Linked DNA regions of Homo sapiens. The protein of the gene in region 1 interacts with the protein of each later gene in a pairwise test. Each region holds a gene or a part of one and is shown in the gene's direction. Other genes may lie near its edges.

What was found.
Region 2: the proteins of PRMT2 (region 1) and FIP1L1 interact in a two-hybrid assay, tested with the Homo sapiens proteins (2 studies listed by BioGRID and IntAct).

What each region holds. Positions count from the first base shown.
Region 1 is NC_000021.9:46,641,753-46,658,171, forward strand, and holds part of PRMT2 (protein arginine N-methyltransferase 2), read left to right. Parts: intron 1-1,782; coding exon 1,783-1,887; intron 1,888-2,553; coding exon 2,554-2,736; intron 2,737-6,705; coding exon 6,706-6,867; intron 6,868-7,822; coding exon 7,823-7,987; intron 7,988-10,053; coding exon of another isoform or gene 10,054-10,254; exon of another isoform or gene 10,255-11,092; coding exon of another isoform or gene 11,093-11,302; exon of another isoform or gene 11,303-13,345; intron 13,346-16,419. UniProt on the Homo sapiens protein: Arginine methyltransferase that methylates the guanidino nitrogens of arginyl residues in proteins such as STAT3, FBL, histone H4. Acts as a coactivator (with NCOA2) of the androgen receptor (AR)-mediated transactivation.
Region 2 is NC_000004.12:53,416,323-53,432,741, forward strand, and holds part of FIP1L1 (pre-mRNA 3'-end-processing factor FIP1), read left to right. Parts: intron 1-9,549; coding exon 9,550-9,643; intron 9,644-11,704; coding exon 11,705-11,861; intron 11,862-16,419.

The sequences.
Region 1 (16,419 bases):
GTGTACACAGGGCTTTGTGTGTGACATGGGCATGGTGGAGGTGTGGAAGGCCGCACACCGGGGGGTTAGTAAGGGTTGCCTGGGCTGGGTGGATCGGGGATGGGGTGGAGAGCAAGCAGAGGGCAGTGCTGCCTTAGAGTGAGTCATGCTCCTGGCATAGGGAAAAGCACGAAGGGTACAAATAGACAGTAAGGTAAAAAAAGATGCCAGCAAGTATTTTAAAAACGCCTAACCACACAAAGAGAGGGAAATGGAAGTAACAACAGTGATTTTTACCCATGAAATTGACAGAGACTAAAGTGATTGGTATCTATTGAGTGAGAGTGTGGGAAGATTGGTGGTTCCCTCTCAGCAAGCGGTCCAGGGAACACCTTTCTGGAGAGCACTGGGTGGTAAAACCAAAAGCCACATAGTCTCAGTCCATCAGGTTCACATTCAGAGACTTACCCTAAGAAGATTAAGGTACATACAGAATGATTTATGTTGAAAGAAGTTCATCTTAACATGATTTAGAATAGTAAAAACTGAAAAGTCTAAATGTACAAGACTAGGAAACTGGATAGGTAAGTCCTGATAATTCATAGACTGGATATTAAATAGTGTTAGAAGTATATTTAATAAGAAAAATGTTCAGAGTTTATAAAGTGAAAACCATAGGCCACAGGCTTATTGTGTGAACCCAGTGAATGCTTTGTACTTATGTTACGTGTCCACTTTTTTAAAAGTCTGAAAGTATAAACACCAATGTGCTGTCTGTTATTATCTGTGATCAGTGAGCAAAATTACAGGAGGTTTTAATTTTCTTCTGTGTACTTGGTGTTTTCACACATTTTCTAAAGTAAACACGAATTACTTTTATGTTTAGGAAAATGTGTTTAAAATGTATGTATTGAGACAAGGTTGATTCATTGAACTGGAGTGTGTGATCTGAGGTTCTGCCCCCTGCAGTGATGTCTTCCAGGCAAGCTTATTCTTATATAAAGTGAACGGCCAGGCATGGTGGCTCATGCCTGTAGTCCTAGCACTTTGGGAGGATGAGGCAGGTGGATTGCCTGAGCTGAGGATTTCGAGGCCAACCTGGGCAACATGGTGAAACCCCATCTCTACTAAAAATACAAAAAATTAGCTGGGTGTAGTGGTGCACACCTGTTGTCCCAGCTACTTGGGAGGCTGAGGCATCAGAATCACTTGAACCTGGGAGGCGGCAGAGGTTGCCCTGAGCCGAGATCATGCCATTGCCCTCCAGCCTGGGCAACAGAGCAAGACTCTGTCTCAAAAAAAAAAAAAAAAAAAAAATGGAGGGGTTGGGGGAGGCTCCAAGGACCTGTGTGGGTCCAAGCTGGGCTCTGCTGCCTCGTGGAGGTTTGTGCCATGCCATCAGCTCTTTCCACAGGCCCCTGGCTGTGCCTGCCTGGGGCGCTGGGCCCCTGGCTCTGTCCTCACACTGGTTTCTCTTCATGGGGTTGATGATCACCTTCAGGAAGCAAAGCTGATGAAGGACAAGGGCTCCTCACCAAATAGACACTAGTGGTGCCTGTTTCTGACTTCTTGCTTTGATGTTCTCTTTTAGGGTCCAGATAATTTTTTTTTTTAGAAAAGAAATGTAGAGTGAAGGTGACAGCCTTTGATTATAGTAGTAAAGATGATCCAAATAGTTTGTATAATAAATACTTGGACACATGAATCTGTATTTGAAATTTGAAACCATCCTAATAATATAGCCAAAAAAAAAAAAAAAAAGCTCCAGCGTCCTCTCCTCACGCTTTCCTTGGCTTTGAGCAGGGAGAAGAGCCTGCTGAGTGCAGTGAGGCCGGTCTCCTGCAGGAGGGAGTACAGCCAGAGGAGTTTGTGGCCATCGCGGACTACGCTGCCACCGATGAGACCCAGGTAGCCACACGTGGTGGTTAATGCTTTATGGCTTTCAGCATGTTCAGTGTCAAAAGGAGATAAATTTTGCAGACGTCACACCAAAGTTAAATGAAGAGGTATTCAGATGCGTAGGGCCACACAAGACCTGTGTGTGAAGCTCACAGCCCAGCCAGTTCTGCCTCAAGCATGATGTAAAGATACGAGGCATGGAGTGGGGACCCTCAGCCAGGGGCAGAAGCACCTGTTCTGGTTTCTACTTGGAATGTAGAACCCACCCAGTTAATGAAAAGTAAGGCTACCAAATATATCAAGCTATATCTGCTTGGACATAGCTTTGTTTACTTTGTGACAGGAATTTCTTAGAGTCAGCCTCCAGTAACTCAGTTGGCATAGTTGAGTTACAATGAAGAGGCTGTTGAGAAATTCTCTCCTAAGCCATTTGAAAATGTTTACTCCTTCTTTTAAAAAATATCTGTTAAGCTGTGCCCTCCTTTCAGGTAGATGTTCCAGAGGCATCGCTAAGTCATGGTGTCACTTGCAAACATTCTCAGTTGCTGTCATTACCCACTGACTCCTGTTTGAAATCTCTGTGATTTTGTCACCATTGATGGGATTTATCACTGAGCCACATTTGAAATACCAATGACTGGTTTTCTTATTGAATTTTAACTTTTTTTTTTCCAGCTCAGTTTTTTGAGAGGAGAAAAAATTCTTATCCTGAGACAAACCACTGCAGATTGGTGGTGGGGTGAGCGTGCGGGCTGCTGTGGGTACATTCCGGCAAACCATGTGGGGAAGCACGTGGATGAGTACGACCCCGAGGACACGTGGCAGGATGAAGAGTACTTCGGCAGCTATGGAACTCTGGTATTGCTTTCTAAATTCCCTGTTCAGCTGGCCAGGCGGTGGGTTCTCTCTAGCTTTAGTTCTACTGCAACGTTCAGAGCAGGCCCATAGTCTTACAGGCCAGAGCTCCTCTGTTGTAGCCACTCAGCTCTGACATGGTTGTGTGGAAGCCACTGTGGATGACACACAAAGTGTGCACTGTTGTGTTCCAATAAAACTTTATTTATGGATCTTGAAATTTGAATTTATACTGTACAGTTTTCATGTGTCACAAAGTATTTTCTTTTGATTTAAAAAAATCATTTAAAAATGTAAAACCCACTGTTAGTTTGGAGGCCATCCAAAAACAGGTGGTGGGCTAGATTTGGCCCATGGCTTAGTTTGCCGACCCCTGGCTTAGAGATATGATTTGAGCAATGAGATTATGTGCGTGCTCCCTCAGTATTTAAAAAAAAAGCAGTAAATTTTACTTTAAAAATGAAATTAGGCTGAGTGTGGTGGCTGACACCTGTAATCCCTACACTTTGGGAGGCCAAGGCAAGAGGACACTTGGCTTGAGACCAAGTGTTCAAGACCAGCCTGACAACATAGTGAGAAAAAATAAAAAATATAATTCGTCTCTACAAAAAAAAAATTAAAAAAAAATATAATTAGCTGGGCATGGTGGTGCACGCCTGTAGTCCCAGCTACTCGAGAGGCTGAAGTGGGAGGATTGCTCAAGCCTTGGAGGCCAAGGCTGCAGTGAGCCATGATGGCGCTGTTGCACTTCAGCCTGGGCTACAGAGCGAGAGCCTGTCTCAAAAAAAAAAAAAATAGAAAAAATTCTATAAATCTATGAATAATACTACTTAGGTCAGGTGTGGTGGCTCATGCCTGTAATCACAGGACTTTGGGAAGCTGAGGTCAGAGCATCACTTGAAGCCAGGAGTTCAAGTCTGTGGTGAGCTATGATTGCGCTACTGCACTCCAGCCTGGGTGATTGAACCAGACTCTGTCCCTAAAAAAATAATAAAAGCCCAGCTTCTAAATAGCTTACCGAAATTTTTTCCCCACCATGGAGAAATGCCTATAACCCGATGGTCCAGGCAACAATCTCTGGTTACATTTTAAAACTAGATGAAAACAGTTACTTGCAGGATGAATGTTATAAAAATGATGTTAGTTGAAAGAAGGAATAGGGCAAAGAATCTATAACGTTTGACTCAATTATATAAAGTTAAGAGGCCATATTAGAAGGTTTTTTGTTTGTTTTTGTTTTTTTTTTTTTGAGACGTAGTCTTGCTCTGTCACCCAGACTGGAGTGTGGTGGCAGGATCCTAGTTCACTGCAGCCTCTGCCTCCCGGGTTCAAGCAATTCTCCTGCCACAGCCTCCTGTGTACCTGGGACTACAGGTGCGTGCCACCATGCCTGGCTAATTTTTGTATTTTTAATGAGGGGGTTTTGCCATGTTGGCCAGACTGGTCTTGAACTCCTGGCCTCAAGTGATCCTCCTGTCTCAGCCTCCCAAAGGGCTGGGATTACAGGCATGAACCATTGCGCCCGGCCGGAAGGTACTGTTTGTGAGTGTGCATGGGTGCTGAGACTGACTGAGGGCAGGAGTGGCTCCCCTGTTGGTTGAATGGAGGTTACCTGCTGGTAGGGGAGGCTCTGGGACCAGCGTGGCTGAGTCAGGAGTTCTGACATGCTGGCAGTGTTCTGGGGTTGGATATAGGTATAGAGGTGTTTGCTATATAACAATACTTGACTAACTCTGCAGATACTTTTTATTGCACTTTTTCGCAGGTATGCCATATTTCACAATTAAAAGTGTTAAAAACTATTCATGTCTGTACATGGTTAGTGATTTCTATCCGTTAAGGAAAGATACATAATGAAAAGCCAATTCCAGCCTCCCACCTCTGCCGCCTCTCAGCTCAAAGAACCACTGCCCACCAGATTCCTCTGTGCTTATGAAGTCCAAGTGACACCTAATGTATTTTACGTTTTTAATGTATAGAAAAGGCATTGTTCCACCACTCAGGTCTTCACCTTGCTCTTTTCACGTAGCTGTAGTATTTTGAAGATCTCTCATATTGGCACCTGTCACTCTTTATAACAGCTGCAGAGCGTTGTGTTACTTTAAAAGGGTCCTGTTGATATTTGGACAGTGGTTATTTAATAGCTTTTTATCATGATAAATAATGCTGTAATGGAGTCCTGTATAATCCTGTTAAATGCTGTTTAGAATTTCTATAGGGTAAATTCCTACGGGGTGTGTGTGTGTAGTGTGTACATGTGGTTTCCTTAAGTGGATCTTGCCAGTTCGCCCTCCAGAAAGATTTGCTAATTATACACTTGGTCTGTTTGTGCTGCTGTAACAAAATACCTTAGACTGAGTGAATTATGAAGAACAAAGCTTTGTTTCTCGCAGTTCTGGAGGCTGGGAAGGCATTGGCATTGGTGTCCAAGATGGCGCCTCATGGCTGTCCTCACGTGGTGAAGGCGGGAGGGCTGGGAGCACCTCTTTCACCACAAACCCTTTCATAGTAACCTCCAAAGGTGGCCTCTTAATGCCATCACACTGACGATTAAGTTTCAGTACATGGATTTTTGGAGACATTTCAGACCGTGGCATGATGGTGTGTGAAAGCTCATTTCCCTACCACAAATCAAAGTGAAAAAGGACTTTGATCTTAAAAGTTAAATATGGCATCTTTTAGTTTTGATTTCCATTTTTTAAGTAAGATTGATTATCTTTTATGTGTTTATGGGCCTTTTGTATTTTTTCTTTTTTTGTAAACTTTCATATTATTTGCCCCTTTTGATTTTTGTTGATTCGTGTGTTAAGTAATTTAGCCTGAATTTGTGAAGTTTTGTGACTTTGTGAAATTTTTTCCCACGTACAACTTTTTTCTTTGTATAGCCTAATATGGTTTTCTTTTCTTTGTGACTTCTTTTTCTTTTCTTTGTGAAAAACCTTCCTCACTATAAGATTATAAATACCCACACTTTTGTTTTCAGAACTGTTATGATTCTGTGTTATTTTATTTTTGTTTTTTATGTTTTTTAGAGATGGTGTCACACTCTGTCGTATGAGTGGCTGGAGTGCGGTGGTGCAGTCATAGTGCACTGTATCCTCAAACTCCTGGGTTTAAGGGACCTTCACCTTAGCTTCCCAAAGTACTGGGATTACAGGGGTGAGGCACCCTGCCTGGCCTTCTGATTCTATTTTAAACAATGAGATTTTAAATAATAAAAAATCTAGAAATTATTTGTTGTAAAAAATATAATGTAAAATTCCGCCCTAATGTATGCCCACAAATCTCCAGCGACCCCAGCCTCAGTTACTGGACAGTTCCCTTCGCGTTGATGTGAAACGGTGCGTTTGTCCTGCTCTGGATTTCAGGGGTCTGCTGTAGAATTCCTGTTGTTTCACTGGTCTGTTTACTGCAGTTCCCAGTGCTTCGTCATTTCCATCACTGCACCTTTGTAGGATCTGCAAGAGCTAGGTCTCCAGCAGTTCTTTTTTTTTTAAAGCATTTTCCTCATTAGCCTTGGGCACTTACTGTTTTGAAACTAATTTTATTATCATTTTGTTGTGCTTTCTCCTTTAGTAGGTACTGCATGGAATGTTTATGTTAATTTTGGGAGAGCTGACATCTTTATAACATTGACTCTCAGTCTCTGATTACTTAAGCTTTGTTTAATATCTCTTAGTATTTTAAGATAAGGACAATATCTCTTTGTCATACATGGTTGTGCACCTTTCTTGTTAAATTTGTTCCTAGGTATTTTTTGTGTATTATTACTGTTATAAGGGGGTGGGTGAAGTGTTCTCTAAATACCAATGAGATTAACTTGGTTGACAGTGATGTCCAGGCCTTCCATAGTCTTCCATAGGGGTGTTGGGGTCAGGGGTCATCAGCTGTGGCTCTGACCCTCCATCTCAGTCCAGACCTCAGCATGGCTCTAGGTCACAGGCAGTGATTCTGAATGTGCATTTCTTCCAGAAACTCCACTTGGAGATGTTGGCAGACCAGCCACGAACAACTAAATACCACAGTGTCATCCTGCAGAATAAAGAATCCCTGACGGATAAAGTCATCCTGGACGTGGGCTGTGGGACTGGGATCATCAGTCTCTTCTGTGCACACTATGCGCGGCCTAGAGCGGTGAGTGGGGTCTCGAGCGCATCCCGGGTGTTTGTGCCGAGGCTGGTGACGTCCGAGGTGGCCTCTGAGTGTGCTGACTTGTGACCCTGAGCTGTTGGGGGCTCACCGGTGACTCCATGGTCTTGTTGAGCACCCTGCACGTGGGGCTCAGGGTCGGTAAAATAGCAGTGCGTGGAGACCGCGTGCTAGAGGCCGTGGCGCCCGCGTACAATGAGTCGCAGACAGCACAGACGGGAGTAGGGCAGAATAGACAATATCCCGTGAATTGCGTGGGGCGGGGTATGTTCTGTGAGACGTTTATTTCAGTTGAGTAGAGAAACACGTGCACCCACATGTCTGTGCTGGGCCTTGGGTGTGGTTGGTCTCATGGGGTTGGGAGGGATGCACACGCTGGGCCCCCTCCCCACCCCTCTTAGGCCGTCTATACTGTGCTGAGCTGAGCCGAGCTGCAGCCTTGGAGACTCCTTACACAGTGGGTGGGGTCGCAGCACAGTGTCCACCCAAGTCCAGGCTCTGCAGGACCCAGGACCCAGCGCTTGGGTGCTTCCCACCAGACCCTTCCCTGAGAACCTGGGTTTGAAATTGTCTGACAGGCCTCAGATGTGGCACAGACCAGCATTGTCACTTGGGTGCTAAGAAGTTGCTGTGCTGGTCATGGATTAAGATTGCTGTGCGTGTGGCAGCCGGCTCGGGCATGCGAGTCTTCCATCCACTTGCAGCCCTGCGTCTGTGTCTTGTCCGGGAGGTGGGGGCAGTTGGGAGGGTTAGAGGCGGCTCCTTTCTGGGTGCCCCTGGAGGGGCAGGTGTGGCCAGTCCTCGCTGCCTCTGCTGTCTGGAATGCTGCTTCCCTCTTGTGTCATTGACCATTTCTCGTGATGCTGGTTGTGACTCAGGAGAGTAGATGACGGGCCGTGTGCCGGCCGGATGTACGCTGACGGTGCCTCTGCTGCTGCAGGTGTACGCGGTGGAGGCCAGTGAGATGGCACAGCACACGGGGCAGCTGGTCCTGCAGAACGGCTTTGCTGACATCATCACCGTGTACCAGCAGAAGGTGGAGGATGTGGTGCTGCCCGAGAAGGTGGACGTGCTGGTGTCTGAGTGGATGGGGACCTGCCTGCTGGTGAGGGCGGGCGTGCGGGCAGCTGGGGGCCGGAGCTGGGGGGCTTCTGAGCACGGGCTCGGCTGGGCCAACCTCAGGATCTCAAGGGTCGTGCGTGATTCATTTTGATGTTTTCCCTAATGTGAGGTCTAATTAATTTCTTGTGTGGACATTGGCTCAGTGTCTTGAATTTTCACCTGATTTAAAAAATGCCTTTATGAGAAATTTAAGTCAAAGTTCATGTAACATTTTCATGAGTGATTTACATGAACTGTGTTCTCCTCGGGGATCTGTAAAAATCCTGTGCCTAACAGGTAAGGCTGTTTCTTTAATGCCAGTAGGGCCTTCGTCCCTGGCCAGGGTCTCCTCGCCTTAGACTGGCCCCAGTGATGCTGTGAAGCCACTTGGGCATCTGTAGGGCCAGCATATGCCTGTCCTGTCAGGGTTGCTCACCCTGAGTTTCACATGTGGGTGGAAGTGGACTGTTTTCTGGTTGCCTGTGAATATGCCCTGCACAAACGCTGTCTGCTTGGAGGGAAGTTGACGGGAGTGTGGCTGGATGCTGTCTGCCCGCGCTGTCTTCCTGGGCTCAGCATCCTGGGACACAGGACATTGTAGTGGAGCATCCCAACCTGAAACTTTGTCTCAGTGTAGAGACCCAGAAAGATGGGGTCTGGGTGAAGGAGTGTGGAGTATGGCTGCTGCTTTCCAGGAAACGGTTTCCCCTGGTAACAGATGGCATTGGGCTTTTAGTCCTGTTGAAATTTTGTTGTCAGAAGATAAATGTAAATAGACTCAATGTCCATGCTGTGACTTGGCTTATTAATAACATCTGTGGAGCCATAAGATGACACACAGGAGAAACGGGCTCCACTCCTACCCCCTGAAGGGGCATTTGCCTTTGCCCTGAACAGCAGCGCCCATTCAATAAGTATCTGTTGACAGCTGGTGCCCCGGCCACGGGGACAAAAAGAGGACAGAGCAGGAGTGAGGCTGTGGTGAGGCCAAGGTTGTGTGGGCGGTGATACGGGGAAGCCTGGCTGCTGGAGTGTCCGGCTGTGCCCTGGATTGGGTGAGAGGGACACAGGAGGGACGTGGGGCAGAGGGAGGGGAGAGGAGTAGCCACTGTGTTCACCGTGTTGCCGTGTTCCAGGGCTGCCCAGTGGCCGGATTGGCCAGACTGTGTTGCATCAGGGAGGCAGAGGCCAGATGTAGGGAACTGTGTGTCTGAGGACTTTGTGCCACGTCCTGGACACCGAAGGGAGTGCCACTGGTGTGTGAGTGATGGAGTAAGAGGTGGGCTGTGTTTTGGAGGCCCCTGGGTATGTGTGGCCGGGACTGGAGGCCAGGGACTGGCTGTGGTCCAGCCCCAGCATGCAGAGAGGCCTGGGACATTCTGTGTGAGGGGAGGCCCCTCTGTGTGGGAGGTGCACAGACTTCCAGGACTGACCATGGCTTTATTGTCAGGATGCAGGAGCCAGGGCTTGGCATGGGGCAGGTGTGGGGGATGCAGAGCAGGGCCAGCAGGCAGGATGTGCTGATGGGGGCCTGGCGTGAGCAGGACGGTGCCTCCCAGCCCTGAGCCGCAGGGAGTGGGCCACCAGGACTGGCTGGGGGCCGGGGTAGGGAGGGCCCTGGGGAGGGTGGACATCTGTGTGGGTCTTGAACATAGGATGCCCATCCGATGTGCAGGGCCAGCTATTGGTTGGGCAGTGGGGACATGGCCTGGGGTCTCGGTGGGCGATGGCCTGGAGGGGCCACCCTGAGCAGGACATTTGGAGGAGTGCTGGGGTGAGTCAGACAGGACCATGTGGTGGTTTTCTCCAGTGCAGGCAGTGGAGGGGGAAGGCGGAGCTTTGCAGGTGAGGGCTTGAGGCAGTTCCGACTTCAGACTCCCCCCCAGGGAGACTGAGGGACCACCACCATCATTACTCAGGCCAAGGAGGCCCAGAACAGGGCAGACGGGGCTGCAAGAGTTCCTATGGCGATAGTTGTTGGGGCACAGGGTTGGTCGGATTTGAGGGAGGGAGGGTATGAATCTGGGAGTCGTTGGTGCGGTTGTACCCACCTTCACTTTCCGTCCCCAGGCTGCGCCTCTCCTGAGCTGCCGCATTCTCCCCTGCACCTGTGCGTCTGGCCCTCTTCACGTCCTCCTGGCCTGCTGTCTGCCTCTCCCCTGCACCTGTGCGTCTGTCCCTCTTCATGTCCTCCTTGCCTGCTGTCTGCCTGTTCTCAGAGCCCCTCAGCCCTCAGGCCTTCATCTCTCCTGGCCCATCTTCCTACTCTGACGCTGACATGTAGTAAAAGTCTGAAGACAGAGAAGAGTGCATGTGCGTTTAGCATAGGAGGGGCAGCTTTCAGTCAGTGCAGCAAGGGCATGTAGTTGTTCAGAGATGGTGCTGGAACGACTGATTTGGAGAAAAGAGGCCCTTCTTCACACCATCTGCTAAAATAAACCTCAGATGGGCTCAAGAGTTAAATATTTAAGAAAAGGAGGAAACAAAAAAATTGCTACAAGTTTATTTGTTGTTAGGATGGGAAAGGTTTTTCTAAGAACCAAGTTCATAATGAAGCTGTCAAATAAAATACTTGACAAAAAATTCCCCTTCATACATTAGCACAGCTAAAAACTATTAAATGGTAAATGCAACTAAAGAATTGCAGCTAAAGAATTGTGTGACGTAAAGAGTTGCAATAAGAAAAGCATAAGATAAAGGTAACCTCATGGAAGGTGAGCAGGGACTAGAAAGGCAGAGAAATGCCAGAGGCCAGGAGCTTGAACGTTGTTCAATGCCACCAACAATTTGAAAGTAACTGTAATAGTTTTGACCTGGGAAGTTGGCTGAGCAATCCTCTAATATCTGATGCTCCCGATGCTGAGGTTGTGGGGAAGTGTGCACCGCCATGCCCTTTTTTTGGCAGTGTAAATTGGTAAAGCCTTTTGAAGGAAAATAGGGCAGAATAAGTCAAAGAGCATTAAAATTTTTTTGTTTTTCCAGAAGCAGCAAAGTTCTGAAGGAGACGCAAGTAAAGATACCACAGGTGTCCTAGATTGTCAACAGACCATTTAATCATTTTTGTTAACAAAGCAGGTGACAATTGAGCCCTAATTTGCGTTATCATTAGTTGTTACAGGATCTTGCTTGTTCTCCTGAGGCCACGCCACGATTTCCGAGAAGCAGGTTGCACACTCAGCAGTCTCCCACTAGCCAGTGGCACTGCAGGTGCAGGGGCTGCCTCCTGGACCTTTCAGGACGCTTTGCAAGGTCACTGAGGATCTCCATTGCACATTTGGTAGAATTAAAAGACTGCCAGACTCAGTCTTACTGTTGTTAGTGTATTCGTGCTGTCAATATGTGATGAGGACATATTATATTCCGTTATTCTCTTTAGCTCAAGGAAGAATAAAGAATTTGGACCAAAATTACAACCACATTATGACGAATTTTCTAAGCAAAAGAAACAAAGTAACTGCTGAGGTTAACAAAGATGTAATAATTCTCTTCACACAGCCTTGTACTGTTTTATTGACTGTATTATCACAAATCCTGAGCTTAACGAAAGTCTTTATAAGTCAGCTCATGAAAACAGGCACGTGGCCAGTAAGAATTTAATTTCATACCAATAACACTTCAGACTTCGGATGTATTTAAGGCTGTTTGCACATATTTATAGAATGTGTGGTGTAGATGATGGGACAGCTCCCCCTCAGCAAGACTCTGGCCTAAATGTATTTGCTTTATTTACACAACAAGAGGATAAGCGTAAACACGGGCACTTTCAGTTTGTGGCACTGAAGGACGATCTACACAGGGCACCCTGCAGAGGCCACAACCAAGGCCGCCTGGCTTCCCAGTGGGACAGGCCTAAGGGAGGACTTCTGGCCCCTTTGCTTGATGTTCATGTTTTATGCCTTGATATTTCTTTTTGGTTGCATTCCCTGGAGCTCATGTAGATCATTTTACTTTTCAGAGGTGCTAGTTCTGGTGCCCACACGCACACACACAAAACCATCAACTCTTCTGGATTCCTTGGTTTTAAAGCTTGCCTCATACAAAGTACAGAGACATCTTTTTCAGGAAACATTGCCACCACATGCTTGAAGGACCGCTTATGGCTACACTTAGACATCTCCAACCAAGGTCTCTTCACCTCCTTCTACAACAATGCACTTTGTCTGCACTGGGACAAAAAATGACAGCCTTTTTTCTTTTCTTGTTTTTTTTTTTTTTTGGCGTGGAGCATTTCCGAACTTTCACGTCATAAAAAATGCAGCATAGTTAATCAGCAGCTTGCACTTCTGAGGGCACATTCACCTCGGGGGAGGAGGAAGGAGGAGGAGCTGGTGGGTGCTGAGACTGCAGTGTCCTCCTTCCCAGCAGCTGGACCCAGAGACCAGGCACCAAATTTTTTTGATGAAATTATCCTAAGGAAATAATCAAATTTGTACAGAAATTTATGTTAAAAAATGTTCATGGCAGCACCGTTTAAAATGGGGAGAAAATTGGAAACAACAGAATTGTAGCAATACATATGATCATTAAAAATTATGTTTTAGAAAGATTTTTAACAGTCTTTGGAAAAAGTTGGTGACATGTTGCTAGTTTTTAAAAAAAGTACAGAGTATGTACAGTATGATTCCAATTTTGTGTTTAAAAATTAGACATAGTGGTAACCTAGCTTCAGTTCCAGATAAGATGGAGAAGGCATACTCCTTTCATGTCTCCCACTGAATGCAGCTATAAATCCTGGAGAGTAGACAGGGAGAAACTATTTGAGGACTCTGGAACAAAGACATAGTAGCAATCGACTGGTGAAGAAGACAAGAATTTGAAGTACGGTCAAGTATCTGTGGGCTCCACATCTGTAGATACAACCTACATGTATTGAAAATATCAGAAAATAAAAATAACAATACAACAATAAACATCAATACAAATAACACACCAATACAGTATAGCAGCTACTTACATAACACTGACATTGTATTAGGTAGAAGTAATCTAGAGATGATTTAAAGTCTGTCGGAGGATGTGTGTAGCCTGTATGTAAAAACCACGTTATTTTATATGGGGGACTTTAGCATCCAAGGATTTGAATATCCACGGGGGTCCTGGAACAAGTTCCCCATAGACACCAAGAAACAACTGTATTCCTGAAACAGTCTTGAGTTATCATTTTCTTTCTTCTCCCTCTATGTATGTACATAGAGTGTACATACATAGAGTGAGAAGCAAAGAAGGTCCATGAAATGGACCAATTCTTTTGAAAACTGCAAATTACCACAGTTCATCTAACATGAAATAGATAACCTGAATGGTCCAATAACTAGTAAAGATATTGAATTAATAGTTTAAAAACCTTCTGAAAGGTAAATCTCTACCCTAAATGATTTCACTGGTGAATTCTATCAACACATTTAATGAAGAAAAAACTCCAGTTCTAAACAACTTTCAGAAAAGAAGAGGGAACACTTCCTCACTCATTATATGAGGTAAGCATTGCCCTAATACCAAAACCAATGTTAACACAAAATATGAAACCTACAGACCAATAACCCTCATGAACATAAATGTAAAAATCCTCAAGAAAACATTAGCAAATTTAAACCAGCAGGATATAAAAGGAATAATAATACACCATAACAAAAAAAGAAACTATCCTTGGAATGCAAGGCTGGTTCAATATTTGAAAATCAATCAGTGTAATCTACCATATTAACAGTCTGAAGAAGAAAAATCATGATTATATCAATACAGAAAAAAATTGACAAAATTCAACATCAGTTCATGATAAAATTCTCAGCAAACTAGAAAGGGAAGGAAATTTAACATGACATAGGACATCTACAAAAAAACCTACAGAAAATCCTAAGGAGTCTATGAGAAAATTTCCTAAAACTAGTAAGTGAGTTTAACAAGATCACAGAGTGCAAGGTCATCATACAGAAGTCATTTTTATATCTTAGCAATGTACAATTAGAAATTAAAGAATATCACAGTAGCTTCAAAAATATGAAAGGCTTAGAAATCTAACAAAATGTGATCTGGATGCTGAAAATGATGAGATGATAATGAAAGAAACCCCAGAAAACCTAAATAAATGGAGAGATAAGAAGGCTCAACCTAGTAAAGACGTATGTTCTTTTTAAATTGATCTGTAGACTTAATAAAATTCCAATTAGAATCCAAGCAGGATTTGTTCTTATAGATAAGCTCATTATGAAATGTATATGGAATGTAAAGGAACTAGTGCTATGGTTTGTCCCCACCAAATCTCATGTTGAAATTTGATCCTCAGTGTGGTGGTGTTGGGAGGTGGGGCCTAGTGGGAGGTGTTTGGGTCATGGGTGTGGATCCCTCATGAATAGATGAATGCCCTTCCTCGTGGGTAGATAAGTGAGTTCTAGCTCTTTCAGGTCCCAACAAGAGCTGGTTGTGAAAAAGAGCCTGGCACGCCCACTTGCCTCTGCTCCCACCCTGTGGTCTCTGCACGTGCCAGCTCCCCTTTGCTTTCCACCGTGAGGGGAAATAGCCTGAAGCCCTCACTGGATGCCCAATCCTGAACTTTCCCAACCAGCAGAACCATGAGCCAAATAAACCTCATTTCTTTATAAATTACCCAGCCTCAGATATTCCTTTTTGGCAACACAAAAATGGACTAAGAGAACTAGAGTAGCTGATAGAATTTTTTAAAAGAAGGGTAAAGTTGGAGGAACTATACTACTTGATTTTGAAGCTACAGTAATCAGGACAATGTGGTGAAGGGACAGACACGTAAGTCAATGGAATGGAGACGAGAGATTTCTACAAATATGGTCAATGGGTTTTTTTTAACAAAGGTACAAAAATCAATTTAATGGAGAAAAGACAGTCTTTTCAGCAAATGTTACTGGAATAGTTGTCATCCATATCTAAAAAACAACACCTCAACCTCACATCTCATACACAGCTGAACTTAAAATTGATCATAGATCTAAGTGTGTGAAATGTAAAACTATAAACCTCCTTGAAAAAATCATAGAAAATCTTCATCACCTGGACTTGGGCAAAGACTTTTTACTCTAAAAGCGTGATCCATAGCAGAAAATGTTGATAAATTGAATTTCATCAAAACTAAAAATGACTGCTCTGCAAAAGGATGATGCTAAGAGAATAAAAAAGACAAGCTAAGATTAGGAGAAAATATTGCAAAGAACATATCCAGTGTGTGTTCTGAATATACAGAGAAATCTCAAAACTCAACAGGAAGAAAACAAGCCAATTGAAAATGGGCAAAATACTTGAACAGACACTTTACCAAAGTGGATATACAGATATCAAATACACACATGAAAAGATGTTCAGCATAGCCATCAGGGAAATGCACATTAAAGCCACAGTGAGATATCACTTACACCCATTGAAAAATGACTACAATAAAAAAAAAATCTGATAGTAATACCAACTGTCATCGAGGATGAGGAACAGCTGAAAGTCATGCATTGCTGGAGGGAACATGCCACTGTGGAAACAGGTGGGTGCTTTCTTATAGACTTGTATGTGCACTCACCTTATGCCCAGGAGTCCCTCTCCTGTGTGTTCAACCCAGAGATATGCAAGCTGTGTTCACACAAAAACCTGTATGTGAATGATTATACTAGCTCTCTTTATAATTGCAAAAAAAAAAAAAACAAAACCTGGAAACAACCCAAGTGTCCTTCATCTGGATAATCCTTAAGGATAAACTGGTGCGTCCACACAGTGGAATACCACTGAGCAGTGAAGAGGAGCCAGTTATTGAAACAGGTAATTTGGAGGAACCCCAGAAACGGTACAGTGAGTGAAAGAAACTTGTCTTGAAAGGTTATGTACTGTTTGGTTCCATTTGTATGATATTCTCAAAAAGACACAAGACCATGGGGATGGAGACCAGATCGGTGGCTGGAGAGGCTGGGGTCGGGGAGGGCATGACCACCAGAGAAAAGGGTGAAGAGTGTTTTGGGTGGCAGAGCTGTGTGTATGCTGGCTGTGGTTGTGAGGACAAAATCCACACAAGCGCTCAAGTTCGTAGGCTGTACGCCAGAAAAGCTGTTTCACTACATAACTGAAAAAATAAGATTGAAAAATAAGATGTATATATTTTTTGTGTGCGTGTGTAGAAAAATACTTGAAGGTAAACTGCAGAGTGATAACAGTGGTTCCTTCTAGGTACTGGGTTAATATGTGATTTTTATGTTTGTTTGAGCTTTTCTAAGTTTTCTACATTTTCCGTACAAAACATGTATTACTTCTGTAATAAAAGCAGCTTGAGATTATTTAAGGAAGCAAAACACTTCTGTTGTTTCTCATCAACTACAGGATGAAGTGCAGGCTCCCTGGGTGGTTTGCAGGGGCCACAGGCCTTGGCCCCACCTCGCTGGTGCTCCCTCTACTCCTTTCTGTGTTTGAAGCAAGTTCTGGTTCAGACAGAAA
Region 2 (16,419 bases), on another chromosome or scaffold:
TGTTTTGTTGCATAAGTATTGGACTTGGATTTTAGGTTTAGTTTTGTCAGTAACTACCTGTGTGAATTAAGGAAAGTTTCCTAACATGCCTATGCCTCCATTACCACAATCGTAACATAGTGGAGCTAGACTGTGTAATTCGGAAAGCCTCTTCAAACCTGAAACTCTTTATTTTCTGACTAGTCCCTGGTTTACAATGGAAACTAGTCCTTAGAGATTTGAGAAATCAGAGAATTTGCCCAAATTCACAGCTAGTTAAGAGGCAAAATCAGGACTAGAATACCTGCTTTTCTGGCTTGTAGTACCAATAGTTCAGGCAAGTCAACTTTCATAGACAAAGGCATAGAAATACTTAAAATAGGCCAGGTGTGGTGGCTCACACATGTAATCCCAGCACTTTGGGAGACCGAGGCAGGTGGATACTTGAGGTCAGGAGTTCAAGACCAGCCTGTCCAACATGGTGAAACCCTGTCTCTACTAAAAATACAAAAATTAGCCAGGCATTGTCACAGTCACCTGTAATCCCAGATACTCAGGAGGTTGAGGTGGGAGAATCACTTGAACCCGGGAGGTGGAGGTTGCATGACCCAAGATCATGCCACTGCACGCCATCCTGGGTGACAGAGTGAGACCCTGTCTCAAAAAAAAAGGAAATACTTAAAATATGTTATTTTCAATGTAATTTTAAACTTTGTTTCTTTGGCTTTGTTTTAACATCTGGAATTCCTTTTATATCAGCTATTTGACTTAGAAGTTTTTATTTAAAATTGTTTTACTTTAGATATAGTACTTTACTTTTGGACACCAGATGGCTAATTTATAGCGAAAATGTTGTTTCCCATACCTGAAAGAGACACATCTCAGTGCTTTATGTATAGCAACTCCATCTATACCTACTTCTCTCTAAAAAAGATGCTCTGGAAACAAAAAAACACCCTTCACTTTAACTTTGTAATTAGTCTCAAGAATATATGTGGAAGGAAATTTGAAGCTGTATTTTCATTACGTGTTTTGTGCTTTAGAAAATTCCAAAAATAGCCTGGCTGTGGTGGCTCATGCCTGTAATCCCAGCACTTTGGGAGGCCGAGGCAGGCAGATCACCTGAGGTCAGGAGTTGGAGACCAGCCTGACCAACATGGAGAAACCCCGTCTCTACTAAAAATACAAAAATTAGCTGGGCCTGGTGGTGCATGCCTGTAATCCCAGCTACTCGGGAGGCTGAGGCAGGAGAATGGCTTGAACCCGGGAGGCGGAGGTTGCAGTGAGCTGAGATTGTGCCATTGCACTCCAGCCTAGGCAACAACAGCAAAACTCCTTCTCAAAAAAAAAAAAAAAAAAAAAAAAGAAAAGAAAATTCCACAACAGATACCCTGGATAAAAGCTACTTTTTCTCTTTGCTACTTTTTCTCTTTTTAAACACACACACACACACACACACACACTCTCTCTCTCTCTCTCTCTCTCTCTCTCTCTCTCTCTCTCTCTCTCTCTCTCTCTCAGGCTACTTTTTCTCTTTTAAAACACACACTGTCTCACTCTCACTCTCTGTTAGTGTAAGAAAAACTAGATTCCTGCTCTTGTAGTTAATGTAACTGACAAATGTGGAGTTTGAGGCATTGCTTAAATGTTTGTAAAGAGCAAGTAAATAATGATTAAGATGTTTTTCGTAAGTTATTATATTTGGGCTGGGCGCTGTGGCACATTGCCTGTAATCCTGGCACTTTGGGAAGCTGAGGTGGGTGGATCACTTGAGCTCAGGAGTTTGAGACCAGCATAGGCAACATAGCAAAACCCCAACTCTACCAAAAATACAAAAATTAATTGGGCATGGTTGTGTGCACCTGTGGCCCCAGCTACCTGGGAGGCTGAGGTGGGTGGATCACTGGACAGGTGAGGCTGCAGTGAGCTGTGATCGTGCCACTGCATTCCAGCCTGGGTAATGGAGCCCAACCTGGTCTCTAAATAAATAAATAAATACATAAATAACAGTTATTATATTTGAAGTTGTGGCCTTATCATATGCTAGTTACTATTAATTTGTATAATACAGTGTTTTCCCGATTTTAACAGTATTCTTCAAGCCAAATCTGTAAGTGTTTTTCAAACTTTAACAGTATTCTTCAAGCTAAATCTATATGTATAACAGTGGCATTTTATTGGTGTAAGTTTGCTTTATAAAATCAAATTTTTAACTCTTGTGAAACTAATTAGAAGAGTGAAGCAGTTTCAGTGAGTGCAGGAAATTGAAACTGGTAATATGGATGATTGCTGTAAACATATCCTAATGCACAGTTTATTTTTTTATTTTGTTTCCATTTTATGTTACCAAGTTCTGTTCCTCTTAATTTTCAAGTGATAGTTTATTTTTCTTAAGCTTATGTTCCTATATTACAATGCTTTTTAACTGATTCATACTCTTGAATGAATAGTAAAAATTGCTTTTCAATGTTAAATCACGAATACATTTAAACATGCATGTATTTCTTCTATTAAACACAATACTTATAATAAAACTGGACGTTAAATGAATATTATATCTAAGAATGACCTCTTCCTCTGACTATCTCCTTTTATGTCTTGATGAGACACTGTACTGAAAAGATGTGCCCATACCTTGGGGCATTTGATCAAGTGCTCTGAATGCATGTTGCTATAGTGTGTAGTTTGTAAGATTTTATGTTATTGGACATATGAAGGCCTTTGGGGTTTTTTGTTTGTTTTTTTAAGATTCTTGTAGAGCTGTGTCTTTTCCTATCATTGATACATTTAAAAGCATGAAATTAAGCATAAATATGGAAGGTAGAGCTTTATTCCAAGCTCTGTACAAAAGTGAGTAAACTTGTTTGCACTTTTGAACACACTTATGTCCTCCAGTGAGTGAAATTTGGGCTTATTTCACCTTTAAACATTCAAGGTTTTTTTGTTTTGTTTTAAATAGAGCTTAAAAATTGACATTTAAAAAATTCAGACCCCAGAAAATTAGTATGATAAACACTGTTGAAGAAGAAGGGAAGGGGTTTGAAGTTGGTTATGCTAAGCCTGAATCCTAGTGCTGCCACTTTACAATGCAAAAGAGCCTCTTTCCACATCTGTGAAAATGAAACTAATTGGATATGTACTTTACTTTTTATTTTTTCAAGACAGAGTCTCACTCTGTTTCCCAGGTTGAGTGTAGTGGTGGGATCATAGCTCCCTGCAAACTCGAACTACCAGGCTCAAGCAGTCCTCCCATCTCAGCCTCCCGAGTAGCTGGGACTACAGGCATGCCCACCATGCTCGGCTAATTTTTTATTTTTTGTAGAGATGAGGTCTCACTATGTTGCTCAGGCTGATCTTGATCTCCTGAACTCAAGTGATTCTCCTGCCTCGGCCTACTCCCAAATCACACCTGAGATTACAGGTGTGAGCCACTATGCCGGCCCCATATACCTTAAATGTGATGTACTTGTAAGGATTAAATAAATTCTAAGCTGTGAAAGCACCTATTTCAGGGCTTGAAAGATAAATCAGCCAGGCGCAATGGCTCACGCCTATAATCCCAGAACTTTGGGAGGCTGAGGTGGGCGGATCACCTGAGGTCGGGAGTTCAAGACCAGCCTGACCAGGCCAGGCGCGGTGGCTCACGCCTGTAATCCCAGCACTTTGGGAGGCCGAGGCGGGTGGATCACGAGGTCAGGAGATCGAGACCACGGTGCAACCCCGTCTCTACTAAAAATACAATAAAAATTAGCCGGGCGCGGTGGCGAGCGCCTGTAGTCCCAGCTACTCAGGAGGCTGAGGCAGGAGAATGGCGTGAACCCGGGAGGCGGAGCTTGCAGTGAGCTGAGATCGCGCCACTGCACTCCAGCCTGGACGACAGAGGAAGACTCCGTCTCAAAAAAAAAAAAAAAAAAAAAAAAAAAACCAGCCTGACCAACATGGAGAAACCCTGTCTCTACTAAAAAAAAAATTAAAAAAAAAATAGCTGGGCGTGGTAGCATGCGTCCGTAATCCCAGCTCGGGAGGCTGAGGCAGGAGAATTGCTTGAATCCAGGAGGCAGAGGTTGTGGTGAGCTGAGATCGTGCCATTGCACTCCAACCTGGGCAACAAGAGTGAAACTCCATCTCAAAAAAAAAAAAAAAAAAAGATAAATCAGACACTCAGTGAGTGTCGGATCTCCTCTTTCATCATGGGCTTTATCAGTCTCTTTAAATGTAGTACTGATAGAAAATAAATTGTATGTCCAGAAAAGTGTTTTGAATTCTGTGATTTTTATTTTAGACTAGGTTCTTTTTCTGGGCGGGATTTTTCATTAATAAATTGTTACTCGAACATTAGAATATATTTTCTTTATAAATTGTGTATATACTGTAGAGAAAATTATTCTTGTGCTTGTGGAAGTAAAACGTACACACAGGTATAGAAACAGTACCATTTCAGACCAGTCATGTTGCCCGGGCTGATCTCGAATTCCTGGGCTCAAGTACCACAAAACTAAAAGATCTGTAGAAAAATATGTAATCAATGATATTCTTATGTTGATGGATATGACTTTAAATTTTTCTTGAAATAAATATTAATTTTTTATGAGCTACTTTAAGTTCTTTCTGGAGGGAACAAAATGTCTAGCAGTCTCTTGAACATGCCCTTAGATTTGTAGTCTTCAACTTTGACCATATTGGAATTACCTAGGAAGCTTCAAAAAAGTATTGATGCTGGGTCCCAGAAATGTAATTTTAAATAGTCTGGTGTACACCCTGTGCATCAGGATTTTGATATGCAGGCAAGGTTGAGAACCACTGATTTAGAGCCTTGATTCTGGGTTGGCATAAAGATTAAAATCAAATGATAGCTAGGCACCTACGGTTTTGAAGTAAAATGATAGATGTAGTTACAATGGGAGCTGATATTTGTATAGCATTTTACAGCCTCACAGTCTTTTTCTTTATGTGCTTCTCATTTAATTTACATTTTCTGCCTCTTTGAATGTCTTTTGGTTGGTAACCACTATCAAAGGTGCATGATACTTCTGTTGCAAGCAAATGGATAGGTAATATATTTGCCACGTAGAAATTGTGCACATATCTACCCCTCTCCATCTTTTCTCTATGCTCATAGTTGTCCCTCCATCTGAAATGTTCTATCTTCCCATCCTACATGTCTTTTAAGGCTCATCTCTTTCCTAACGTAGCTTAAAAGATGCTACACAATTTCCATGCAGAACTGTTTACAGCCATCTATTTACATATGTGACCTGAATTAAATGTCATAACAAGTGCATCTCTTTTCAAGTTGGGAATATGAGATAGCCACATTCTAGGCTTTTTCTTAGCAAATGGACCTTTGAACTGTTTGCTGCCCAGTTCTTATTAGAAGCCCTTCTGTGAGAAAACATTCATAGATGTCTACATTGATATGTGATTCACCCATTCTTTTAGAATATGGTTATAAACTTTCAAGCAATAATTCAAGCAATATTTCAAGCAAAATAATTTGAAAATTTGCTATAAACTCTGGACTTTTGCCTGGAAATTGCATCTATACATATCTATTTATTTAGAAATCAGGGACGTCCTGATTCTTCTTTAGAGAACCATGTTGCTAGTTAAGAACCTGAACTGTTCTCAAAAGCACAGTTACATTATTAGATCAAGCCTAACCATTAAGAGGGCTAGATACACAGACCACGTTGTTTTGCTTCCCCTGATTAAATTGCTCTTATTGAATTGGGCATTGTTGTGCTTCACTCAGCATTAAAGGGCATTTTGAGAAATAGCTCTTTAAAATTCAATTTTTTTTGGTAGGAATTTTGGAGACTTTATTTCCATATTTTTGAAAACATGAGATTGCAATCCATTAGTGGGTTGTGAAACAATTTGGTGGTCCCAACCAGTATTTCTTGGTTTTGTATTGTTTCTTTTGCTTTTTTCCTATGCTATATTTAAATATTAATAAAATTACATTTTATCTTAGTGTCACCATTTTTCCTTTTTTAAGTATTGTTTCATGAATCTTTTTTAGTTTTTAATGTATTGTGGGTACTGGATTGCTGTGTAAAGTGTACTTCTTACTGTGTTTTGTAGTCAATAAAGTTTAAAAACTATTGTACTCATATTTTCTCTTAGACTCAGAGGAGAATCTTTTTCTGTTTATTCTCATTTGTAAAATGACAATAATGAGAGTTGCTACCTTATGGGTTTATCATGAAGACTAAATATATATAAAGTATTTAGAACAGTGCTTACCTTGCGCATAGTAGGTGCTCCATAAATACTAGCTGTCATTACCAGGAAAACAATCTTAGAGCAAATGCTTTGTTTTAATCTTAATGCACATTAAAGACATTTGTTGTTAATGATGTCCTTTGCTTTGGCTTCCAAGAAAAAGCAGCTGAGATATATATATATGTATATATATATATTTTTTTTTTGAGACAGGCTCTTGTTTTGTTGCCCAGTCTGGAGTGCAGTGGCACAATCACAGTTTACTGCATCCTTCATCTCCTGGACTCAAGCAATCCTCTCACCTAAGCCCTCTGAATAGCTGGGACCACAAGCATGTGCTACTATGCCTAGCTGATATTTTAAATTATTTGTAGACACAAAGTCTCGCCATGTTGCCCAGGCTGGTCTTGAATTCCTGGGCTTAAGTAATCCTCCCGCCTCAGGCTCCCAAAGTGTTGGCATTACATGCGTGAGCCTGACCTTCAGAGATCAATTTATGGCCTTTTGTCTATCTTCTATTAGCCCTGATTTGTCATCTTAAACTTTCTGTTGCATCTCTGCAGGGAGCCCTCAGATTCTTTCTGGGATATCAGAATCATCAAAATATGATAATTTAATTCCATTGTAACTTCAGAGATATTTTTATATTCATTTACTGTGCCAGGAGGGGAGGTAGAGGCTCTTGGGAACATTTACTGCCTGTTTAAACTGTACATTAACTCAGACACCCAGAGTGGTTAGTTTCTTAGCTTTTTACTAGATGGTTGAGTCCAATATGGAGAAGAGGATTTTGATAATAGCATTAGCTGTCTACCTTACTGAACAAGTTTGTTGGCCTAATCAAACCTACGCTTTGGGGAACTCTTAAGTTACAGTAGATTTCCTCATAGGGAAACTCTATTAAATCTTCTTAAGCAATGAAAGAAAAAGCTGTCCATTAAGAACTTTCGTGGAATAATATGGTTCAATATTTTTTTCCATAATGTGGCATCAGAATAATATTAGATTTTTAAATTATTTGTCAGTGTTAGATATTATGTGCTTTTTGTTGCTGTGGTACATACTGTGTGTCTTATCATAAAACATTTTGGAACAAAACGGTAAGCTTAATTTATATGATTAAAGTAAATCAGTTTATGTGGTTAAAAAATACGGGCACAAGGAGATGTTTTGAAAATGTGGAGAATTGTAATTTTCTGAACTCCCTTTAGGGATATATACTTGTTAAGGCTGATTTCTCAGTTATATGTTTTTAGAAACATAGTATTTGCCATTTTGAATCTTTAGTGATTAAAAACAATCAATTTAAAGTTGAAAAAAACTAATTAGACTTCTGACCATATTTAAGGTACATTTTAAGAGGTGAATACTTCCATGTGTCCCAGACTTTTTGAAAACTAGAGATCCTCAGAAATAAATGGTAAAAGACAGGCTATAGAAAATTTTCCCCTCAACAGGAAAGTTATATCTAGATCTAATTTTTACCACTTTTAACAATTTGGAGAATTTGCTATCTGACTTGCAAGTCCAAACAAATTTGGTAGAATTTGTTCTTGATGGGAATAAATTTAAAAATGCAAAGGAGAGAGTCCAGTGATTGGCAAGAGAAAATAGTAGAAAAGGAAATAGAGCGAAAATAAAAATTTTGACAATGGAGGGCAGCAATTAACAGAGAGGAAATTACAGCCTCAGAATGCACACCTGTATTTAGTAGGATGTTGGAATATGAAATGTTTGTATATCAGAGGGCTGATGGCATGTGCTTTGATAATGCAGTCATGGTAGGCATAGCTTTGCAATTTAAATTATAGGGAAGAAATGGAAGCAATATTTGTTTTATTGTAGAGATATTTGGATTTTTGTAACATGTGAATATTAAGATCTTTCCCCAGCTGTATTGGAGGATATGTTAATCCTCCAATGAAATCATTCATGATCTTTGGGATCATGAGGAAATCTAGGAAGTCAGTGACTCAGGCATAAAATTAGAAAGGCTTGAACATTTTTAAATTGTACTAAAGTTATAGAGAAGGGAAGTCTTAAGTGGGCAAGGGATGGTAAGTGGGAACTGACTATGTACTTGAAAACATTTCAGATGTCATGATGTGCTTTTTATAGGGCTGTCTTTGTTAGCACAAAATAATTTGTGGAGTGTTTCAAGGTCTACTTGAGATAAACTCTTACTAACTCATGATTTCCAGAAAAGCCTTAAATTCCTCAAAGGTCTTGCTGGAAGGAAACCTAGCTCAAGGGGAGGGGAGGTCTATAGTCTTTGGGATTAGAAAGACTCAGGTTTGAAAGTTAGTTTTGCTATTTAATTCATGCTTGTGTCAGTGATTTCACTTTGGACCATGGCTTGTCTCTAACAAGTATACAGTAATTTTTCAGTTTTTGTGAAGTTTAGATATAATGGGTTTGGCATCCAACCTATGGTAGCTGCTGTTATTTGTCATTTTAGGAGCCTAATCTAGTGACTGTGGAAGGATCTATGGTATTTTAATTGTTTTGCTTCTATAAAGTTTTAAAGGCAGTATTGTTCAGAACTGAAATATAGATGAAGAGAAATTCATCTAATTTGCATCCACTTTTCATTGCCTATTTCTCCAAGTGACTTCTATATCATCTTAGGCATGCATACTTTTGTAAAGTCCTTTATCTGCATAATAGCTTTTAACATTATTTTATTTAAAATACAACTTACTAGGTTTTTCTCTTAAATTTATAGCATTGTTTTATGATAGACTATTTTTCCATATCCTTATAAACTTTAAAAAGATTGTAGAGGTGAGGCGGGTATTTAAATATTTGAATTTTTCTATCTAAATGCAAGTTATCAGAAATGGCAAACTGGTTCCTTTTTTATGTTTTTTAACACTTGGAATATATCACAAGGAAAATATCTTGTGTATGTTAAAATGAGCATTATTTTCAGGCCTTTTTGGGGAATATTTAAAGTTTCTGTAATAGAGCTGTAGTATGTGTTACAATTGTAGTGGTCCCAAAATTTCCATTTGTCTAGCATTTGCTGTCTTATTTAATTTCACAAAGATAAATTTATTTGGAGACTACTAAAACTAGTAAGTGTAGAAGAGCTCTACAGAGACTTAAAACTTAACATTATGATCATTGTTGGGTATGTTGGTTCTAGCTTGTTTATTAATAAAAATTTTTATGACAATGCAAAGTAGTGAGCTTAAACTCAGGGATATTTTTCAATGTGTATTGTGATCTGGTTTTATTTTAAAATTTATTGCAAACACATTTTGTTTTTATTTCTCACTGCTTTTATTATTTTTTAAGCATCTAATTAGGTGAAACTGAATTGATTCAATTTTTATGTTACAGGAGATTACCTGGGGCAATTGATGTTATCGGTCAGACTATAACTATCAGCCGAGTAGAAGGCAGGCGACGGGCAAATGAGAACAGCAACATACAGGTTTAGTATTTTAAAATAAATAATTTTCTTTAACTGAAGGATGATATCAACATTATAATTTAATTTATTCAATAGATAGTCATAGTGCTATGCTGTGTTTTAGGTGATACAAAGAGATTTAAAATGTGAAGCCAGTCATTTATTATAAAGGCATTTCCAGTTAGAATTTATAATCTCTGAATCTTTTTTTAATAGGGTTTTCTTTCTTTTCCTTGGTAGAAACATAGTACAGGTTGAGTATCTCTTATCTGAAATGCTTGGGACCAGAAGTGTATCAGATTTTGAAATGTTTGGATTTTGAAATGTTCATACGTATGTAATCTTAGAGATGAGACCCAAGTCTAAACATGAAATTTATGTTTCATAAATAAGTTATTTAATTTGTTATAATGATTTGTTAATTTATGATAATCTTTTTTCCTTTGGCAACCCTGAGTAAACTGTGTAGTGGGCCTGAGTTTTGATTGTGATCCGTCACATGTGAGGTTGGGTGTGGAATTTTCCACTTGTGATAAAATGTTGATGCTCAAAATGTTTCGGATTTTAGAGCATTTCAGATTTCAGATTTTTGGATTAGGAATACTCAACTTGTATATAGGTTTACTGAATGAAAAATAAAAGACCACCAGTGATTTTACCACCTAAAGATAACCACATCTGGTACATCTCTTGATACTAAGCAAAATTGGGATACTATTATAATTATATTTCTGTGTATACTTTTTTCCCCATCTAAAATTATCATTTGTATGTTTTCATATTCTTAAAATATGATTAAAATATCTTCATGATAGCTTCATTGGATAAATATACCATGATTTATTTAATGTGACATTTCTGGAGGTGGCGTAGAGCTGCTTTGTTTTTAGGTGAAAAATTGAGGGGAGATAAATTATCAGTAAGTTGGATAATTAATGTTAGAACTTTAATAACTGAGACTTCCAGCTATTCATTTTGGCCATACTTTTTTTCATTATTTATTCCTATTTTCTGAGTCCTTTTAAAAATGTCCAGAGCACTTTATTCTTACCTTTGATAAGTTGATCATGTAAAATATTCCTTTTAGCATCTTTAAAGGCAAATCATTTCTATAGTGGAAGATGTTAGTCCATTTTTCCTTTCCCCTTACCATTAAAATGCCACGATTTCTCAAAATAAATACTTTAAGAAATAGCTTATCAGCATAAGCCCTACAAAAAACACTGCACTTAAATGTAGGAAGTGTTAATGGAAAGAGGGATTGTATGTTTAAAAGATTGCTTTAGTCAGCAAGGATCTGAGAAGTATAAATTAAATATACAACATTATGTTGGCTGTCTTTCCCAAATTTATTTACACATCCTTGGGGAGCTTATCAAAAATCCAGATTTTGAGGTGCCACTTTGCTTGTTTTATTTCAGTAGGTTTGGGGTGCTTCTTATGGTGCCTGTCCCTTAACCTGTTCACACAAAGAAGCATTTTGCAAACATTGCTTTATTTTTCAAGAATAAACCCTGGTCTTAAAGTTACAAGGCTCACATGATAAAGTTACTTACATATCTTGCTGCCTATTGCTTGCAGTCTGTTGACACATGCCTGACAGTTTCTTACTTTGCAACCTGGTGATGACAGGCCCTTGTACAGTGAATGTCTGACCTGCTGCCATGTTAATTTCTTAAGGCCAGTGTCTGTGATTAATGATTACATTGCCTTAATTGAATACTTCAACTTTGGTTGGGTGACAAAGATAATACTTGTTAAATGATCTTTATGAAGTACTTTTTTCTTGTGTGGAGTGTTTGTATTAATTACTTTTTATTAAGAAATTTTTGGTAATGATCCAGTTGTTTTTTCTTAAGATTTGAATATGCACATTTTTAAAACTGTATGTATGTGTATACTCACACAGGCGTATGTATACACATATCACACATGTAGAACTATTACTCTCCCCCCAAAAATACATATATGTGAATTAAACTACCTTTTACTTTGTTTCTTAGATTAAATGAAATTAATTTACTAAGATTAATCTTACATAATATTTATGCATCTGTTTAATTAACTGTGCTCTAATTTTAGGTCCTTTCTGAAAGATCTGCTACTGAAGTAGACAACAATTTTAGCAAACCACCTCCGTTTTTCCCTCCAGGAGCTCCTCCCACTCACCTTCCACCTCCTCCATTTCTTCCACCTCCTCCGACTGTCAGCACTGCTCCACCTCTGATTCCACCACCGGGTAAATAGTAAATAAGACATTTGACTTTGAAAGAAAAATAGCTTGCGAGTGTTTTTTAAAATTTTTGACAATTAAAATAATATCTTGATCACATTTCATTAAAAGTAATAGATATAATATCTTCAACAGATTCACACTGAAACAGATATATATATGTTTATTGCTATTTCAATATAGGAAAGAGACAATGTTCTAAAATTAAGAAGAATATACAGATACCAATCTTGTGATTCAAAAATATGATAATGATCCCCAAACTTAAGTTGCTAATAGAATATGTATAAATCCATACTCAGTTACAAACTTTACCAGTGTTAATTTGTTTTGAAAAAAACATTAAAAGATACTTTCAGGATGGGAGTAGATCAAAAAATTATATCTTGCGAAGAGATTGATTAATATTTCAGTCTGGTCTTCTTCTGTATACCGGTTTCCTTTTAGGAGACTGCTACTGGGTGCCTGGTATTTATTTCTTTTAAACAAAAGTAAATGTTGATCATATTTTTAGCTACTTTTGATTACAATTAAAAACCAGGTTAGTGGTGATAGAGAAGAAACTCACAAATAATTCCCAAATTTTATTTTTATTTGAATTTTTCATCGGGTTGCCTTTCTTACTTTGTTTTTAACCTTTATCTGCCTTAACCAAGTTTTTATGAAACTAGCAAGATTGATTGAGATAATAATTACTTCTTCCCAGGGAGAAAGCTAGTAGTAAATGATGAAAAAATAGCTGCTTGTCCTCATCAGGGCAACATGAAAGACGTATGTTAGGCTTTACTTCCTATTAATCAAATCAGTTTATACTAGAGAGCCATGTACTCTCACTCACTTTTATTTGCAAGAGAGCTGTCTTTGTTTTAAGGTGCCAGTTGTGATCCGAGTACAGAACCAAATCCAGGGTCTGAATAGTCCTTCCCTAACATATTCATCCTTGGCCTCTAAATGTCAGCCACTGCTTCTGTCTTTCATCTTCAGTGCCTTTGATTTCCTTCCACTGTCACCTCTACTCTCAAAAAGTATGAGAAAAATATGAAAAAATGACTTGTGGCTTTAGAGGGTCTGTTGTCTCAACAATAGTGGAAGGAAGAGGTTGGAATATAGGTTAGAGGTCCTTATTCCAGACAACATTAGTATTTCTAATTTCAGTGAATTTCTAGTTCCAACAAATAGATTGAGCAGAAACGACTCATTAGTTGGGATTGACTTGTGGTTCTTGTGTCTTTAATATGCTGAGTATTAACCAAATGAAAGAGGACTTAGGTGATTCAAAATGAGGACTTCTGTGATTTCTATGTGAATCCTTTGTCCTCTGAAAAAGAATTAGATAAATAAAAGGTAGAAATAATTAATGTTTCAACATATTTGATTAATGATACTAAAAAAATTATTAATGTTTGTGGTACTCTGTTGGATTCCTTTGTAATATTACTTAAACTTTACTAGGTAGTGATTTGAAATAATTTTCTTTTTTTAATTCTTAAAACTTTTTAAAAATTTTATTTTTGACAGTAATACTTGTATATGTTTATGGGGTACAATGTGATGTTTTGATTATGTCTACATTGTAGTAAATCAAGTTAATATATTCATCACCTCACATACTTAACATTTTTTTGTGGAGAGAACATTCTGAAATCTCCTAGCAGTTTTGAAATATACGGTTATTAATTATAGTCACCATGCTGTACAGTAGAGCTCCAAAACTTGTTTTTCTCATTTTACTGAAACTTTTGTATCCTTTGAAAATCATCTCCCCTACCTCACCCGTGGCCCCCAGCCTCTGGTAACCACCATTTTACTCTCTGCTTCTATGAGTTGGATCATATAAGCGAGATTGTGCAGTAATTGTCTTTCTGTGCCTGGCTTATTTCACTTAGCACAGTGTCCTCCAGGTTCATGCATGTTGTCACAAATGACAGAATGAAAGGATTTCCTTATTTACAAATATAGTATATCCCCAGATGGCTAACATTTTGTATGTTCAGTACTAATTATTAAAGTAAGTAGGACAGAGTTGGTATGAATTAATGACAACAAATACTTAGCTGGTATAAGAATATTCGAAACTCCGTAGAATATTGCTACAGAGGTAATTGCTACACATAGGCAGTAGCATTATCTGGAAGTTTACTTTTTTTCAAAATGATAAAATTACTTTTTTTTTTTTTTTTTTTTTTTTGGAGACAGGGTCTCACTCTTTCGCCCAGGCTGGAGTGCAGTGGTGCGGTCTCAGCTCACTGCATCCTCCACCTCCCAGGCTCAAGCGATCCTCCTGCCTCAGAGTAGCTGGTACTACAGGCGTGTGCCACCATACCCGGCATTTTTGTATTTTTTGTAGAGATGGTGTTTCGCCATGTCCAGGCTGGTCTTGAACTCCTGACCTCAAGCAATCTGCCCTCCTCGGCCTCCCAAAGTACTGGCATTACAGGCATGAACCACTACCCCTGACCATTTCTTTTTCATGTAACCTTTGTTCATAAGTATAACAAATCTTTGAAGAGTGTTTAGGTTATTAATGACATTATACTATAGAGTGCAGCTAATTATTTTTCTGTTGCTTAATCTATTTTTCTACTTAATTCTCAGCTACATGCTTTCCATATTTTAAAATCGAGATTTCCTTTTATGTTTATTCTTGGTTTACATTTCTATGCTCTTCTGTCAACATTTAATGAGTGCAGATTCAAATGAATTCTAATGCTGGTTTAAGCAGTACCTAACTGGTATATGTGCTGAGCAGGATACCAGTTCATTAAAACCAAATATTTGAAGTTGAGACTCTCTGAATTGCTCCTTACTTTTAGTAGAATGTGAGCTGTTGGGGAGCGTACAGGCTATGTATTTCTATCTATGTTTCCCTACAGTTTTAGTCAAGTGGTCTTGTACGTACTTGGCATTCCCTAATGTGTTTGCTAATTGAGTTAACGACATATTTATGTATCCATAACACCAAAGATGATTTTCGGATTTATACCTGGTACATTCAATCAGGATGGGCACTGGCTCTGAATAACAGTACGGCTGCATAGATATATGCCAGCTGCCATGCTTAAAGCTGTGGTTTTCAGTTACCCTTTACCACAGAACCACATGATTACACTATGTTCCGTAGTTTGTTGTAATTTAAATCACCTTAAGAATCATAAGCAGCTAATGAAAGAAAGCTATGATTCAGGATTCTTTTTAAAGTATTGCCTTAAAAGATATTCCATTTTTCTTAGATAAACTGTCTTGTTTTTTGCTTTCTTCAAAAATAATCAAAAGAAAATGGAAAAACATTTTTTTAAAGAATTAATTTAAATGTATTTTAATGTTGCCTTTTTAACATTAGACTTCTAATGTTTTTAAAAGTAAAGTCCAAAATATGATGAGATAAGTATAGTAATGATATTTTATTCTCATATTTTAGGATGCTACTAGATTTTTGTTTTGTTTTGTTTTGTTTTCAAATAAATAGGGTGACCATACATCCAGATTTGCCTGGAAGAGTCCTACTTTATACCTTCTATCCCAGCATAATTATTATTCATTCTTAGAAAGAAATTCCCTGGTTTAGATGATACAATTTCTGATTGACTCTTGGAAATTTACAGAGGTCTTATTGCATAAGTAGATAAGTTACTGTTTAACAATTATAAGGTGTTAGAGATAACTCTCATTTGAAGGACTTTTAATGTCAAATAGTTCACAGAAGAGGAGAAATGTATTGCCTCCTCTCACCCTTAAACACACACCTGCAAACGTATATGAAACTTTGCTAGTAACACAGAGAGGACAAAGTATTTCTGGCCATAATAGATTTGTATGAAGAGTAGAGGAGATTTATGTATTAGAATACAACAAAGAAGGAAGAGATGTCTGGAAGTGCAAAAGCATTTATCGTGGTTCCCTGCAGCCATACTAACAGTAGCTTGAAAACAAATACTGGGCCAGGCATGGTGGCTCATACCTGTAATTTCAGCATTTTGGGAGGCTGAGGCAGGAAGATCACCTGAGGTCAGAAGTTCAAGATCAGCCTGGCCAACATGGTGAAACTCCATCTTTACTAAAAATATGAAAAAATTAGCTGGGTGTGGTGGCATACACCTGTAGTCCTGGCTACTTAGGAGGCTGAGGCAGGAGAATCACTTGAACCCAGGAGACAGAGGTTGCAGTGAGCCGAGATCACACCATTGCACTCCAGCCTGGGCGACAAGAGCAAAACTCCATCTCAAAAAAAAAAAAAAAAAAAAAAAAAAGAAAGAAAACAAATACTGGCTAATTTAGTTCTTCTATAATATCCAGAAAATCTGTTATTTCATTTTCTCGTGAATCAGAAAATAGTTTCCATTGTATTAAGTTTTTTCAGAAATACATTACAGTGGTTTCATGCTTTTTCTGAGTAATAATAGATATAATAGCTAATACTTATTGAATGCTCACTTTTCAGGGTACTATTCTGAGTACATTCCATGTGTTAACTCATTTGATTCTTGAACAATATCTGAAGTAGATGATATTCTAATTTTGCACTGAGGAAGCGGGGACCTAAGTCATCTGAGTAATAGCTAGAAAA